2 separate regions of the Homo sapiens genome follow, and region 1 is linked to region 2. Evidence: fine-mapped expression QTL. Tissue or cell type: whole blood. Region 2 holds a variant in brackets; the other region holds the start of a gene. All regions are shown on one strand. Distances are from middle to middle.

Evidence for each region. PIP is the estimated chance that this variant, and not a neighbour inherited with it, causes the effect.
Region 1: it holds the start of CCDC18-AS1, and the variant in region 2 is fine-mapped to the expression of CCDC18-AS1 in whole blood (TOPMed, PIP above 0.99).

What each region holds. Positions count from the first base shown.
Region 1 is chr1:93,341,608-93,349,715 of GRCh38, reverse strand. CCDC18-AS1 (CCDC18 antisense RNA 1) reads left to right here and starts at 3,905. Exons shown (of 9, transcript NR_034089.1): 1 at 3,905-3,992. DR1 (down-regulator of transcription 1) reads right to left here and starts at 3,809. Exons shown (of 3, transcript NM_001938.3): 1 at 2,851-3,809. The coding sequence starts at 3,070. RefSeq lists enhancers at 2,970-3,179, 3,240-3,309, 3,679-4,214.
Region 2 is chr1:93,194,900-93,203,007 of GRCh38, reverse strand. It overlaps CCDC18 (coiled-coil domain containing 18), which reads right to left. Exons shown (of 29, transcript NM_001378204.1): 7 at 1,020-1,116. Among named protein-coding and RNA genes, the nearest start is that of CCDC18, 18 kb to the right of the region's middle. The variant C/T (reference allele first, on the strand shown) is at 3,414.

The DNA.
Region 1 (8,108 bases), 150 kb before region 2:
TCAACGTAAGACAGCTTGGAGCAACTCAACAGCTGAAGACGCAAATTCTCAGATACTCTTTCAAACTTTTACTACTTTCAGTTACAATTCTCATAAATGTGAGGGGAGATATTTCATGTAAGGTTCTCAACCCCTGACTAATTCTCAAAAATTACAAGTAATACCTGAAATCAAGTATTATTTGTACACAAATAAGAAAACCTTAGTTAAAAGATTTCCCTAAGGTTAAAGAATTCTCAGTGCGGAACTTACAGCTGACTCTCAATGTCAATTCTTTCTATAAGGCAACAGAACATGTTAGAACTCATTCAAGAATACGTGTTCACAAAAAACTGCAACAAAATAGGAACACCTTTTATAGCTTAGAACTCCCTCTATTCATGTATCTATGGTCTTCAATACCAAGTCTACTTTCTTAAACTCAAAATAAGCAAAACAGAAAAAAAAATTTTTTTAAATAAGTTATTTCATAGATATACTGGTGATAAAATTAGTTCAACTTTAACTTGCATTTTACAGAACTATCTCAGAATGCTTAATTTGCTCAGACAAGATAAAGCAAGGTGAGAAATGAACAAGTGAAATGTCCTGAAGCAAAGTCTAATTCATTAAACTTATCACTAAAAACCCAAACTTCAACATGTGAGAATCATATCACTTTAAAATGTACATTACTTATTCCATTTGGATATATTCTACATTCCTAATCAATGCTGACAGAAAAGTATAAAAATGTCCTATTATGATTAGTGTATAGGCACACACTTCAAACACCTAAAACATATAAACCTTAAGAATTTCTTTAAAAATGTAATCTCTCAAAACAAAACTTCTTTGGAATAATTAAGCAATATGAGATTATAAATGTATAAAGTCTACAACCCCAACTAGGGAGAATTCTTGGGCGAAAATGTAGATTCTTAACCACTTTTAAGAATAGCATAATACAAGAAAAAAAGGTAAATTTTTAAATTTAAGGTAACACGTCAATACATGATTTTTAAAAACAAATCATCTTCATTACACAATGGAAATGCTTTTTCACTATAGCTTTCTGACTCACACATTAAACTGAATTTAGCATATTCCAAAGTTGAATTATTTAGCATACTGCTTGCTACAGCTGCACTTCTATTCCATCATGTCAATCAGAAATCTAAATATATCCTAGAAAAGAATCAACTCTCCCCAAGAAGACAGACTGTAATGTGTTATTAGGTTTTTGGAACGATCCCCACTTCTGTAGTGTAAACAAATGTTTAGGCAGACCCTGCTGAAATCTTTTGCAATTTTCATTAGAAAGGCAATGTTGATAAAGGTTCTTTTTCCTTTTTAAGAGTTGTAAAAAGAAATTATAGCTATCTGTGCTGGATAATCTTGTGAAAGACTTATGACAGCAATCACACATACAATGTAAAAATAAATACACAAGGGAAAAAATAGACAACTTGGCTTTCATTTTACTTGCTAGAGTATTCAGCACACCAAACAAGTAGAAAAAAAAAAAACTAGTACTAGTTTTAAGAATCAAATATGCTTTTTCCTAGGGATTTTTCTGCTTGTGTACTGAAATGGCAGGATATATTTTAAAACTACTTTCAAGACGTCATAAAGGATTAAAAATGAATCATTTAATCCTTTTGTCAATACTGAGAGTAAAATATTGGATATGGTCAATATAAGCAGATGTGTTCTCTACTTCAGTACAACAGGAAAGTCACATTTTAAAAAGTTAAATTATAAAAATTAAGTGATAGACAACCACCTGCCTATCAAAATGATTAAAATTAATCATTTTTCCCTGATTTCACAAGCAATCAATAACTTTAATTAGATTATTACAAAAGGCAAGTTCTCACCTCAAATTGAGTACAACTCTTTCACAAGAGTACATGTAAAAATATCGCAAAAGGTACGTTCCCGAAACATTATGAATAGTAAATATGTTTCTCCTCTCTGAAACCACCAGAATACAGTCCCCCAAATCCCTATTACGGGACCAAATCCTTTCCAGGATAAAAGAAACTGTTGAAGTTTTCAGAAGTGCTGTTCCATAAAAGCCTAAGTGTATACATTCAAATAGGAATGACAGCAGGAAAGGACGGGGAAATTTTCCGTTAAAAAAAAAACTTGCATAAACTTTCAATCAAAGATTTCAAAACTTATCTCCACAGAATAGAACAAAGCAAACGACATAAAAGCAAACGAAAAGAAAAAAACGAAAATTTAAAGTTCACCCTATTCTTACAGAATGGAACAGGAGTTATTTGGTAACTCATTCATGAACGTACCATCAAACCATTTTTAGAGCAGAAAACATACACCTTTTATTTAACAACGATAAACTTGACAACGTTGAACACATTGTATGTTAAGAATTTTTTAACTCATGTGTTCAGAAAATAAATCTTTTCCTCTACATTGGTGAAAGGTCAGGTGGGGAAGGGGGTGCTCTGTCTCCACCCACGTTGAAGTTCCTCCGTCTGAATTTTAACTTTCCAAAGGAGAATTTCTGCGTTCCTTAATTATTATCTAAGTTCAACTTCAGGCAAGTAATTCTTGTTGCTTCGGCTTACCTGGCTGTAAAGTGAGATCACTCTTATTCTTTACGTTTTGGGGACGCTGACCTAAATGTTTGCACTCCTTACATGTATTCGCTGGATGAAAAGTACTGCAAAAATGCTACAAAGGGATTGTTTTTAAAGCACCGGCTGCCTACATGCCAGTCTGGCTTTTTCATTAAGTTACTTACCAGGGAAGAGGAATGGAGGCTTTGACACGAAAGGGTCACGCGATTAGCAGACTGCTACCCTAGAACCTCATTCAAACCAGCTCTCACACACGACTTACCTTGTATGACATGCTCTGGTGAGATGGTCTTCTTTTCCGATTTGTTACAAATCTCATTGGCTTCAGAAGATATAAGGTGAATGAATTCAGTGCAGCAGTTCACCACCAGCTCTCGAGCATCGTTGGCCACCCGGACATTAGGAAGAGTCTCTTTGATCATTTTATTGATAGCAGCTCTGGGGATAGTGAGATCATCATCGTTGCCAGACGAGGAAGCCATAGTACCTTCCTGTTTCTCGCGCCCCGGCTTTTAAAAACTCCCCAGCTCTGGTCCACTACTCCACCGAGATTTCTCAAAAAGTCGCCCTCGGAGAGTGATCCCGGGGGGTGCTTTGCGAAGAGGGTGCAGAAAATGAACGGAGGAGCAGCTGGCTTGAGGGCTGGGAACACTCGCGTGTGTGAGAGATTTAGGATGAGTTTGGGAAGAAAGTGGGGGCCCGAGGATTCTAGAGAGAGCACAGCCCAGGCTGAGGAGGGGAAAGCGCGGTGGTCCGGAAATTTGAGCGGCTGGGGAACCACCTTCGTGTCTCCTCAGAGGGGCGGGCGCTGTCGCCTAACTGGTCCCCAACGGCGTCGGAGCAGAGGCAAGATCCAGGGGCACTGGCCTCGCCGCGGTACCGGGCGGGTACCCAGCGGGCTCGGCTCTATAGAGCCCGAGGCCCCGCTGCCGCTGCCGCCGCCGCCAGCAGCCGTTGCCGCCGCCTCGGCCAAACCATCCTTCAGACACCCGCGCCGCCGCCTCACAACATGTCCGCCGCTGCCGCTGCCGCTGCCGCTGCTGGAACGGCGACGGCCGCCTGGGAACTAATATGGACAGAGCCAGGCACAGTGGGAGTCGCAGTGGCTGCCGCCGTGGCCGCGTAGCCCGAACGCAGATCGTGGAAGCCGAAGACGCGGCAACGGTGGTCCCTCCAGATGCCAGGGAAGGTTTGCAGGAAGCCGCTCCCGACACCCTTTGCGCCACCGGAAGCCTCGTTCCCTCAGATTTCCCCCTCCCTCCCGGACCGACTTCCGGGTGTGGCTGCCGCCCTTCCCCCACCCACGCCGGCGGGAGCCGCCCGTTCGCGCTGCCAGCAGCTTCCGCCTGCTACGGTCCTGGCAAGCACCTCGGGATCCCATTCCTTCACAGGGACCCTAGCCAGGCAAGCGCGCGCCTCACTGTACCGGAGAGCTCCAAGCACGCGCTTGGTCTGGGGCCCGGACGCTACATCTGGGAAGGGGTGGGTGGCTGGGTAGATAGGCGAGGAAGGATCGTCTCTACCCTCTCTCAAGTAGCTGAGGCCTCCGAAACCTTCCCTAGCTGGATTTGGGGACAGAGGAGCGCTGGTATTGATAAAATAACTCTCTTTGCTATTCCTTTAGGAGCCCAAATGAGGATTGAAAGTGAGAAGAATGGGACCTGGGCTTGGGGGTGGGAGGTGGGGAAAGCAGAACCCCGTGTGCCTGTTTCTGCGTCGTCTGGAGAAAAAGCTTTTCAAGATGTCTGATAGACCTTATTCGGTTCAAAGCTCTCTAAAGTCCTTCACCTTTTTTTTTTTAAACTTCATGAAAAATGAAACATTTCAGAGAAGTTACTTGCCTAGAGGCAACTAAGTCGCCTAATGGCTAAGTAGGAAAGCAGAAGTCAGTTCCAACATAGTGGAAATGGAGTGGAAATGCATGGCATACAATGAGCTATATTAGAAGGTTCCCATTTAGACAGTTTTCATGTTGTATTCCATGTTGGCTTCTACAGGGGAAAAAAGTGTTAGAGCATCTTAAGCAACTGTTTTTACTTCTTTCCATAGTGACTAGTAATATCAACAGGTGTCAAGGTCTAAACAGAAATTGCATTTAAAAAAAAAAAAAGTGTGTCAGCCAGGCGTTGTGGCTCATCATACCTGTAAACCCAACACTTTGGGAGGCTGAGGCAGGGGGATCACATGAGCCCAGGAGTTCAAGACCCGCCTGGGCAACATAGTGAGACCCGTCCCTACAAAAAAAAAAAATATATATATATATATATATAATATATATTTATATATATAAATATATATTCCAACATCCCACTGTTTATAGTATAGCCTCTTCTATATGACAATATGAAACACGGGTTTTTTTTTCACCAGGCTTGGTGGCAGGCACCCGTAGTCCCGGCTACTCTGGAGGGCGAGGTGGGAGGATCGATTGAGCCAGGGGGTCAAGGCTGCAGTGAGTTGCGGTTGTGCCACTGCACTTCCAGCCTGGGTGACAGAACAAGATTCTTTGTCTCAAAAAAGATAAAAAAAAAAAAAAAGTAAAAAAACTGAGTCTGTCATACTGTCATGTGGAAGAAGAGGCTATACTATAAATAGTGGGATGTTGGAATTTCTAAAAACTAAACAAGACACTGTTGAAATCCATTTTGTCACTTTGGTTCATCAGATTCATTACTCTTGATACATATGATGGCAACTGGCTTGTTGACAGTGTTTTCTTAAAACGTTCTGTCTGAGCCCTATATGCTGCTCTCAAGAAGACATTACAGTTTATTATGCTATTTTTTCATTTAGCATTTTCTGCAGGACAACTTACTGGTTCTTTAATTTCTGAAGTGTAGACACTTGTTTTTCAGTGCTACTAAATTTAGTCAAAACAAAATTTCTTTGATTAAAAACAGTATTTTAATTAAATTTTCTTCAGGCTGGGCATGGTGGCTCATGCTTGTAATACCAGCACTTTTGAGAGGCCAAGGGGGGCGGATCACTTAAGCTCAGGAGTTCGAGACCAGCCTGGCCAACATGGTGAAACCTCACCTCTTCTAAAAATACAAAAATTAGCTGGGTGTGGTGGTGGGCACCTGTAATCCCAGTTACTTGGGAGGCTGAGACAGGAGAATCGCTTGAACTCTGGAGGCAAAACTTGTAGTGAGCCAAGATCGTACCACTACACTCCAGCCTGGGAGACAGAGCACGACTCTATCTCAAAAAAAAAAAAATACTTTATGAAGTGGTGGGTTTGTTTTTTTTTGTCAGTTTACTGTTGATTTAAAGATTTATTATGGTGCCTAAATTTATCTTGACCTTAACAAGTTTATCCGTCTGAAAAAGCTGGCTGGCAAAAAATGTCCCAAGTTGTCACAGTGTCACTGACCCTTATCTTGTCTCTCCTGAAAAAACTATAACTTTGCTTTTTCATGTAACATTTATGTTTATAGACTTATGCTAAATAGACGAGTAGAGCACACATTATTTCAGTAATAGTTTATTGCTACAGGCTTCTGTGGTAGCATAAACAGAATTGAATGTGTAGTAAGAGTTGTAGGTTCCAGTCCCAGCTTTTTTTTTTACTTAGACAAGTCACTCTCCAAGCCTCATTTTCTTCAGTTCAGATATAGAAATATTATGTAACACACAGGATTCAAAATCAAATGAGAGTTGTGTGAAAGTACTTTTTATAGTATGAAGTGTTATATAATGTTAGTGTCTTTTATCATCTTTATCAGGCTTGGTCAGTCTTCAACTAGTAATGAACCATGTAACTAGTTTATTACATACGTGGCTGAGAGAAATTTAATTGGATATAAATACCAGTGTGATATGTCATAAAATATGCTAATCTGTAGCCCATATTTAAATAGTTATTTATAGTACACTACATGTATCTGTATTATAAATAGGCTTTTAAGGACAAAGAGAACATCTCCTTATTAAGCTTTAAGAGTTTCAGAGAGAATGCATATATATGAAACTTTTTTTTTTCATGTTGTCTAGGTGTGGTAGTGCACACCTGTGATCCTACCTACTTGGGAGGCTGAGGTGGCAGGATCACTTGAGCCCAGGAGGCTGAGGCTGCAGTGAGCCATGACACTACTACACTCCAGCCTAGGTGACAGAGTGAGACCCTGCCTCAAGAAAAGGAAAAAAAAAGTTTAGCCTCAGAGTAGGGTTAGGGGAGTGTCACTGTCAAAAACAGTGGAGTTGAAAGGGAGCTGTTTAGAGAAGATGTGCTTGCTTTTGCACATGTTTGGGCAGGCATTTGTAGAAGTGGTGTCCTATAGAAAGTGGAAAGAGAAGACAGCATCTGATTTCTACATTCATTCAATAACTGTCTAGTGTCCTGACTATGATGTGGGAGAAATAAAGATGAATATAACTCCCACCTTGTTCTTGAAGACCCTATAATCTGGTGGGAGAAGCAGAATATAAACCAGATTCAAATAAATATTGTGATAAAATATACAGGCTAAGAATGCATGGGAAGAAGTGATTAACACACTAGTTGTGGAGTACAAAGGGTTTTATGGAGGACTGGATATTTTAACTGCACCTTGAAGATTGAGTACAATTTTGATAGGGAAGGAAAGAGCATGTAGCTGAAGAAAAAACACAAAAGTACATTGTATGGCTTGGGGAAATAAAGTAGTCTAGAGTGGCTCTATTAATAAGGTTTGTAAAGAGGTGTAGTGGTATATGATGCAGGAAAAGTAGGTTAGGGCAAAAAGAAAACAGATCAGTGCCTGATATGAATTATACACTGGGCCAAAAGTTTTTCATATTTGCTATTTCATTTAATTTCCATATAGCCATGCAAAATAGGTGTTTTGACATGGGGGGAAAACAGTCTCAGAGAGTTTTACTAATTTGTTCAAAGTCTCACAGATAATAAGTAATGGAGCTGAAATTTCAAACCAGGTTGTTACTTAACTCCAAAGCTGAAGCTATTTGTAATTTGGTAACTATCTCTAAATTAAAAAAAAAAAGGAAAAAAGGTTATATTCATTATAGGACTTTAAAAATATAAAGCACTTTCACATGTATTTGGTCTTTATAACTAGTCATTAATCCCAATTGATGGATGGGAAAATTGAAGCCCAGTGAGATTATTCAAGGTCACAGAGTGAATAAGTGGCAGATTGGAAATGCAACCCAAGCTTTCTGACTACAAAGTCTCAAGTCTTTCCACATCATTTTAAGAAGTCTGGAGATCCTTTTGTAAGCAGTGGAAAGAGTTAGTGAACATTTTTGAGAAGGGGGATGACATAAACAATAATGTTTAAAAAGATTAGTTTGAGTTCGCATGTGAGATGGTCTGGAATGGACAGAGACAAGAACATTAATTATTAAGCTATTGTAAAAATAGTAATGATGTAGACCTGAACAAAGAAAGTTTGGTGATAATAAGATAAAAGAAACAAATTAGAGGCATTTGGAAACAGAATTTACAGGATTTAGCTTCTGCCTGCATCTACCGTGAGATACGAGGACCGTGCCTAAATAATAATGGAGGTGGGGACAATG
Region 2 (8,108 bases):
GGTTAACACTGTTCAAAGATATATCACAATCTTTGAGATAGCCTAGCAGCTCAAGCATTGCCTACTCTGTGAAGCCTTCTTTGGGCCCACCAGAGTTTATTAACCACTGCCACCTTCACCCACCCTACCACACCTACCTCTTATTTCTATATTATACTTATTCCAAAATACTGAAATTATTTGTTTACATACTTGTCAATCTTACTAGACAGTGAGCTCTTTAGGATAGGTATCATGTGTTATGTATCACCGAATCTCCCAGAGACTAGCACAGTACCTGGCATGTAAAAGGAATTTCATGATTGTTTAATAAATGAACACCCATCTTCTTACTCTACCCTTCTACCTGAACATTCCTTCCTCTGCCTTTCTACCTTTCTTGGATCAGAATCATAAACTTCCTCTGCTTTCATTGCTATCTCAAGATGGAAGTCTCCCATATTAGTATCTCTTTACCAGACCTCTCTTTTGAGCTCAATATCTGAATATCCAACTGTGGTGTTCCTCCATACACATTTCATTACCATGTGATATTACTTAAAGATAATAAATGAATATAATAAATGAATGTAATAAACTCACTATTATTTCTATATCAAATCAGTTCAAGGAACCTTCCGAGAGGCAGAAGCAAGCCCCTCTCAGAGTAGCAGACTGAGGGAGACCAGTTGAAAGCTACATAATCTATCTTCATTTTCATTGAAGTGATAAAAATGAATTTCTTTTTTCTACTTCTTTAGCTCCAGTCTCTGTTAACACATTCCATCCTTCTCTGTATTTTGTTCCTTCTCCTCTCTCTACTCTTTTCCCTCTTTGGATAAAAAAGTTTCTCCTGATAATAAAAGGGTTGGTGAACATCATCCTTAACTAACATTTACAAATTGTTTATTTAAATGATTTTGTAAGATCATAAAAATTACTCTCTGTCTCAACCATAAACATATTTTAATTATTCCTACCTTTACTGTTGGAATATAGACAGTAATACAAAACACTGAATTTGCACAACTGCCTTTTACCTTTTCCAGTTTTTCAGCCACTTTTTTTTTATATTGTTGGAAAGCTTTACTCAGCTCTTCGGCATTATATAGTGCTTCATTCCTTTGTCGTTCAGCTCTAAAATTTAAAAAGAGATAATGAATAAAAGTGAAGAATGCTCTGCATTTGAAGAGTTAAGTTCCAAAGTAATCTTTAATTATAAGGAATAATTGGAGAGAAACAAATTTCTCTGCACTAAAAAGGAGTATTAGGCTTAAAGTATAAAATGAAGAATGTAGATCATACTACAAAAATTTTCTCACTCTATCAATATGAAAAATAAAACACAAAACAATAATAAACATAAATGTCGAAATATATATAAATTCTTATGTGTTGGCAATTTTTTTTTTCCCTATCTGGAAAAGACAGATTAGGGAAATAGCCTGAGGCTGGATGATACATTTTCAAAGGTTAGGTATTACAGAATCAGTCTATTGTCTAGAATATTAAATATACTCAGTAAATTCTGTGACCTTTGCAAAGGTCAAATAAATTTCAAATAGTTATTTCAAAAAATGGTAACTTCTATTGATACCAGATATAAAAATCTAGACAACAAAAAACACAACCACCACCAACCACTCTTTAAGCCGAACCTTGTTGCCTCATCTCTTAGTTCCTTATGCTTCTTGCAATGAAATGAAAATTTGGGGCACAATACATTGAGAATATTTGGTCAATATCACTCTCACACCTAAAAATATTTTAATATTTAAACCTATTCCCATCATATTCTTTCTAATGTAAGTGAGGTTAGTGACCCTCCTCTTATCCAGGGTGAATTACTCTATTTATAGTCTAGATCTTAACTCTTAACCCTTCAGAAATACACTCTAGCTTCTGTATTTTCATTCTCTCTGTTGGTTATTTTGCCACAAGTATAAACAAGTTCAAGTAAAAGTACTCCTAACTTTCTGAGTCTATGTGGTTAAGTACGTCTATTTGACTCCAAAGTTTCAGATAAAGGAAAGTAAGGACAACAAAGGACTTCTCTGAAAATCTGTAGGAATATAATCAATTCCTGAGTGTGCACAGGTACTGTTCAGATCAAAGGATACCTGTATTTCTCACTTAAACAAACAAAAACCTTCCCACGTATTGTGCTTTCCTCTATTATCCTTCTTTTCAAGCCAGACTTATCCGCTTTACACTTATCTACTCTTCCTCACTTCCAATTTGTAAAAAGTAATGACATATTTCAGCCACATCAAAAAGTCTGGATAAATATTACCATGTACTCCCAATCACGTTTTAATGAATCTTCACTCTTTGTCTGAAAAGGCTACAGAAGACAAACAAAATATTACAAATAAAGTTGAGGTCCTTATGTGTCCCTTCCAAATCCCATTCCCCTGACTTCTTCCAACAGAGGTAACCCTATCCTGATTTTGGTGTTTTTTATTTTGTACATTCATGTTAACCTACACCCACAAATAGTATATATCACAGTTCATCTATTCTAAGAGACACATTGTTTTCACTTTTTGTTGTGTGTGTGGGGTCTTGCTATTTTGCCCGGGCTGGTCTTGAATTCCTGGCCTCAAGTAATACTCGCACTTTGGCCTCCCCAAGTGCTTGGATTACTGGAGTGAGTCACTGTGTCCAGCCTGTTCTCGCTTTTTTTTTTTTTTTAAATAATCTCCTATAGTCTTACCATGTTTTCACATTTTTAACATCTCTAAAATTGTTATGTGCTGGGTGTGGTGGTTCACGCCTGTATTCCAAACAGTTTAGAAGGCTGAGCCAGGAGGATTGCTTGAAGCCAGATGTTAGAGACCAGCCTGGGAAACGTAGTGAGATCGTCTCTACAAAAAGTTAACTGGGCATGGTGGTGCACACCTGTAGTCCCAGCTACTCTAGAGGCTGAGGCAGGAGGATCCCTTGAACGCAGGGGTTTGAGGCTGCAGTGAGCCATGATCGCAACACTGCATTCTAGCCTGGGTGACAGAGCAAGACCCTATCTCTAAAAAAAAATAAAATAAAATAAGACAGTTCCAGGTGGGGGTCTGTAAAGTGCAGCAGCCACGGCCAGCTACCTCATGCTCAACAACAGCACCTAGATGCTCATACTGGGGCTGGGCACCTGCAAGTCCCCCTTGGGCCAGGTAACTGAAGCTGTGAAGGTGGCAATTGACATCGGGTACTGCTGCATTGACTGTGTCCACATGTACCAGAACGCAAATGAGGTGGGGGTAGCCATTCAGAGGAGCTACCCACTGTGGGTCTCCTCTGAGCTGTTCTGTCGCTCAACAGAGCTTCTCTTGCTCACCCTCCACTTGTTTGCTTACCTCATTCTTCCTGGATGCAGGACAAGAACTCAGGACCCACTGAATGGTGGGGCTTAAAATGCTGTAACACAAATGGCTGAAACA[C/T]GCCCCCTGCTCACTACGTTGCAGGCAACAAGAAGAAAAGACAAGAGAAGGAGAGAAGAGCTACAGCCCTTCAGGGGAGCCCAGACCTATGAGCTTCCCGAGCCAGGGCTGTGACACCCTCTTTAGGGCTCTGTGGTTCCTGGTGTCTCCAAGCTTCCAGTACCACCCCGTTCCCTGGTGTCAGCCACAGAAGCTGCTTATGCTATACCTGGTCCAGCCACAGCCTCACAGGGAGCTGGCGCCCGTGCTGGCGCCTGGAGCTGCTCACACCACCACAGCCGGCATGCCTGGCTATGTATAGTGGCTGGACCCTATGGTCGTTCACACACCCCTTGCCATTCTGCACCTAGCTCACCCTTGGCAGGTGTGGGATCCAGGGTGGTAGCACGAGCCAAGCGCAGCCTGCCAGGCTGAGTGGGCAGAATGAGCCCACTGGGCCAGAGTAAAACTCGGGCAAAGGTGCCACTGGCCACAGAGGTTTCTGGCTCGTGAAGCAACACCCCAAGGATCCCAAAACAGCATATTGTGCCCCTCCTACTTCTAGAAATCTGTAAGTATAAAAATTTCTTTCTCCATGTCAGTCCTGTGTCTGTATCTTACCATACCTGATTAAAACAAACCCCAAATACATTTTAAAACATGCATTAAAGCCAGGCACAGTGGCTCATGCCTATAATACTTGCACTTTAGGAGGCCAAAGCAAGAGGACCACTTGAACCCAGGAGTTCAAGACCAGCCTGGGCAACACAGTGAGACCCATGTGTAAAAAAAATTTAAAAATTAGTCGGGTGTGGTGGGGCAAGCCTGTAGTCCTAACTATCTGCGAGCCTGAAGTGGGAGGATCACTTGAGCCCAGTAGTTGGGAGCTACTGTGAGCCATGACCACAGCATTGCACTCCAGCCTGGGTAACAAAGCAATACCATATTTCTTTAAAAAAAAATTAAGACTATACATATCTTCTGTAGATTTTTTCTTATAGTTTTTCTTATTTGATTTTAATTTTTTATTGAGTAAAGTACAGAAATCCTAAATGAGAGAAGTTTATAATAATGTGTATACTTACTTAACTACTAACCCAATCAAATAGAGAACACTTCCAGCACCCCTGTGTACCTTCCCAGTGAATATTCTTTACCCCAAAAAGGTAAGCACCATTTGGACTTTTAACAACATATGTTAATTTTGCCTATCCTTGATTTGCTATGGAATTATACAGTATTCTACTGTGTCTGGCTTCTTCTGCTGAGCATTATATGTGTGATAATAATCCATGTTGTTACATAGTTGTAGTTGCTCTTTTTTACTGATGTGTATAATTATGTGAACATACCACAGTTTATAGATTACACTGTTGATGAACATTTAACAATGAATAAAATTACTCTAACATTCTTGTACATGTCTTTTAATACAGGGACTAAGTTTTGTTGAAATGAATGCTGGATCATAAGGCAGGCTTATGTTTACCTTTAGCAGCTACTGACAAACAGTTTTCCAAAGTGGTTCTACCAATTTACACTTCCATTAGAAATGCAGGAGAGTGGGCCGGGCGCGGTGGCTCACACCTGTAATCCCAGCACTTTGGGAGGCCAAGGCGGGCGGATCACGAGGTCAGGAGATTGAGATCATCCTGGCTAACATGGAGAAACCCCGTCTCTACTAAAAATACAAAAAATTAGCCAGGCATGGTGGTGGGCGCCTGTAGTCCCAGCTACTAGAGAGGCTGAAGCAAGAGAATGGCATGAACCCAGGAGGTGGAGCTTGCAGTGAGCCGAGATCGCGCCACTGCACTCCAGCCTGGGCGACAGAGCGAGACTCTGTCTCAAAAAAAAAAAAAAAAAAAAAAAAGAAAAGAAAAGAAATGCAGGAGAGTTTCAATTCCACATCCTTGCCATAACTTGTTTTTGAGAGTCTTTTCCATTTTAGTCATCATGGGCTGTAGTGGGCCTGATGTTTCCTTTCCTTTTGTCACCATTGTTTTGACTAGTTTAGTTATTTGTGGGCAGATTTTTAATTACTGATTTGATAACCCTAATAGCTATATATATACACACACACATATATATGTACACACACACACACATATATTTATTCAGGTTTTTCATTTATTTTAAAGTTAGTTTTGTTAAATTTTATTTTGCTGAGAATTTTATTTAGTCTAAGTTTTCAAATGTATCATCTTTAAAATGATTCAGTTATTGGCCTTATTTCTTATATATTTCTTATTGCTTACCGATTTATAGCTAAATCTGTAATTTGGGAGTCCCTTGCCAATCCCAACACTTGTGCCTTTTCTCCTTTATTAATCTTGTCTGATGCCCATTTTCTTGTTCATTGTGAAAATAACCACATTTAGGTTTTGGTAATCCTTTATATTGTTTCACTGTTTTCTATTCATCCATTTCATCCTTATCTTTATTATTTCCTTACTTCTATTTTCTTTTGATGTTCATTCTTTCTTCTGATGTCCTCCTTTTCCTGACCACACAATAGTCTATTTCAGTTCATTAATTTTCAGTCATGATATAATACATGTATATAAGGTTAAATTTTTTCCTCTAAGAGTGTCTTTAGGTACAGCCTACATGCAGTGATGTGCATTTTTTATATCACTCAGTTCTAAAGGTTTTCTAATTTATTCAATGGTCAATGAACACCAGTAGGTCAATGAACACCAGTAAGCCTGGTTTTACATTTCCAAACATACAGGATTTCAAGGAGTTATATTCTAACTTAACTGAACTGTGGTTGCAGAAGATAATACATACGACATCAATCTTTTGGAATTTGTTCAAATTCATGCTTTCTAGCATAGTGAGGTAACAGATTACATCTGCTTGAAAGAATGTCAATTTCAAACTGTTGACTACATGGTTCCATATACACATCCATTAGATCAAGAATATTAATTGTCTTATTCAACACTTCAAGCCTTAATTTTTTGTTACTTAACAATTCCTGATAAATGTATAAAGAATTTTCCCCATATGACTACAGATTTGTTCTTTTCTCCTTGAAATTGTGTTATTTTTCTTATGTATTTTGGGACTAAATTATTAGATACATATAAGTTTAGAGTCTTTATATCTTGCTGGTTTAGAGTCTTTATATCTTCTTGGTTAAGTGTTAAACATTATATGAGTCATTTTAATGTTGGTAATGCTTGTTGCACTGAAGTCTATTCTGTGTGATCCTAATATAGTAATATCAACTTTGCTTTGGTGAGTATTTATCTGAAACATTTCTTTCCATTCTTTTTTTCTCTTTTTTGAGACACAATCTTCCTCTGTCACTCAGGCTGGAGTGCAATGGCACAATCTTGGCTCACTGTAATCTCTGCCTCCTAGGCTCAAGCAATCCCTTTCACCTTAACCTCCTGAGTAGCTGGGACTCCAGGCGTGTGCCACCACACCAGGCTAATTTTTATATTTTTTGTAGAGATGGGGTTTCACCATGTTGCCCGGGCTGGTCCTGAACTCATGAGCTCAAGTGATCCACCTATCTCGGCCCCACAAAGTGCTAGGATTACAGGTGTTAGCCTCCGCATCCAGTCTGCTTTCAATTTTTCTGTGTCCTTATGTTTTAGGTAATCTCTTACAAACAGCATAAAGCTAAACAATCTCTCCCTTTCTTTACACTGGCTTTTTAATCCATTATGATTAATCTTCTCCACCCAATAGTCCTTGAAAAGGTTCTGATCTTTCAATCTCAGAATGTGTCTTAGTCTATTTGTGCTGCTAGAATAAATATCATAGTCTGGGTAGTTTATAAAAAACAGAAATGTATTTCTCACAGTTCCGGAGGCTGGGAAGTCCAAGATCAAGGTACTGGCAGTTTGGTAGGGCCTAATCTCTCTGCTTCCAAGATGGTGCCTTAAATGCTACATCCTCCAAGGAGGAGGAACACTTTATTCTGACATGACAGAAAGGAAAAAAGGAACAAACTCCCTCTGTCAAGCCCTCTTATAATGGCATTAATCCATTCACGAAAGCAGAGCCCTTGTGACCTAAGTACCTCTAAAATGCCCCACCTCCCAACAGTGTTGCGTTGGGATTAAGTTTCCAATACAAAAAATTGGGGGGACACATTCAAACCATAGCAGAAAGTCAATATTCATTTTAGTTCTTCAAAAAGCTCCAAGAGTCTTCATGTCATACCTCTACCTAAAAATCTCAATTGGCTATTTATGCTTTCCAGGTTAAAATACAAATCCTTTGGTATAACACACAAAGCCATTTACAGTCTGGATCCAGCCTGTCTTTCTTGTCTCATCTCCCACTACACCTATTTACTTATAAGAACATAAAATTACTTAAGAGTTCTTCAGCAATAATACCCTTTTATACTTCTATACCTTTGCACATGCTGCCCAGAATGTGTCTGTCCCCCACTTACTCACTTTGTGAAGCCAAAGTCAATATTTAGCCAGGCGCAGTGGCTCACGCCTGTAATTCCAGCACTTTGGGAGGCCAAGGAGGGTGGATCACTTGAGGTCAGGAGTTTGAGACCAGCCTGACCATCATGGTGAAACCCAGTCTCTACTAAAAATACAATAATTAGCTGGGTGTGGTAGTGCATGCCTGTAATCTCAGCTACTCAGGAAGCTGAGAAAGAAGAACTGCTTGAACCCAGGGGGCGGAGGATGCAGTGAGCCAAGATCACACCACTGCACTCCAGCCTGCGAGACAGAGTAA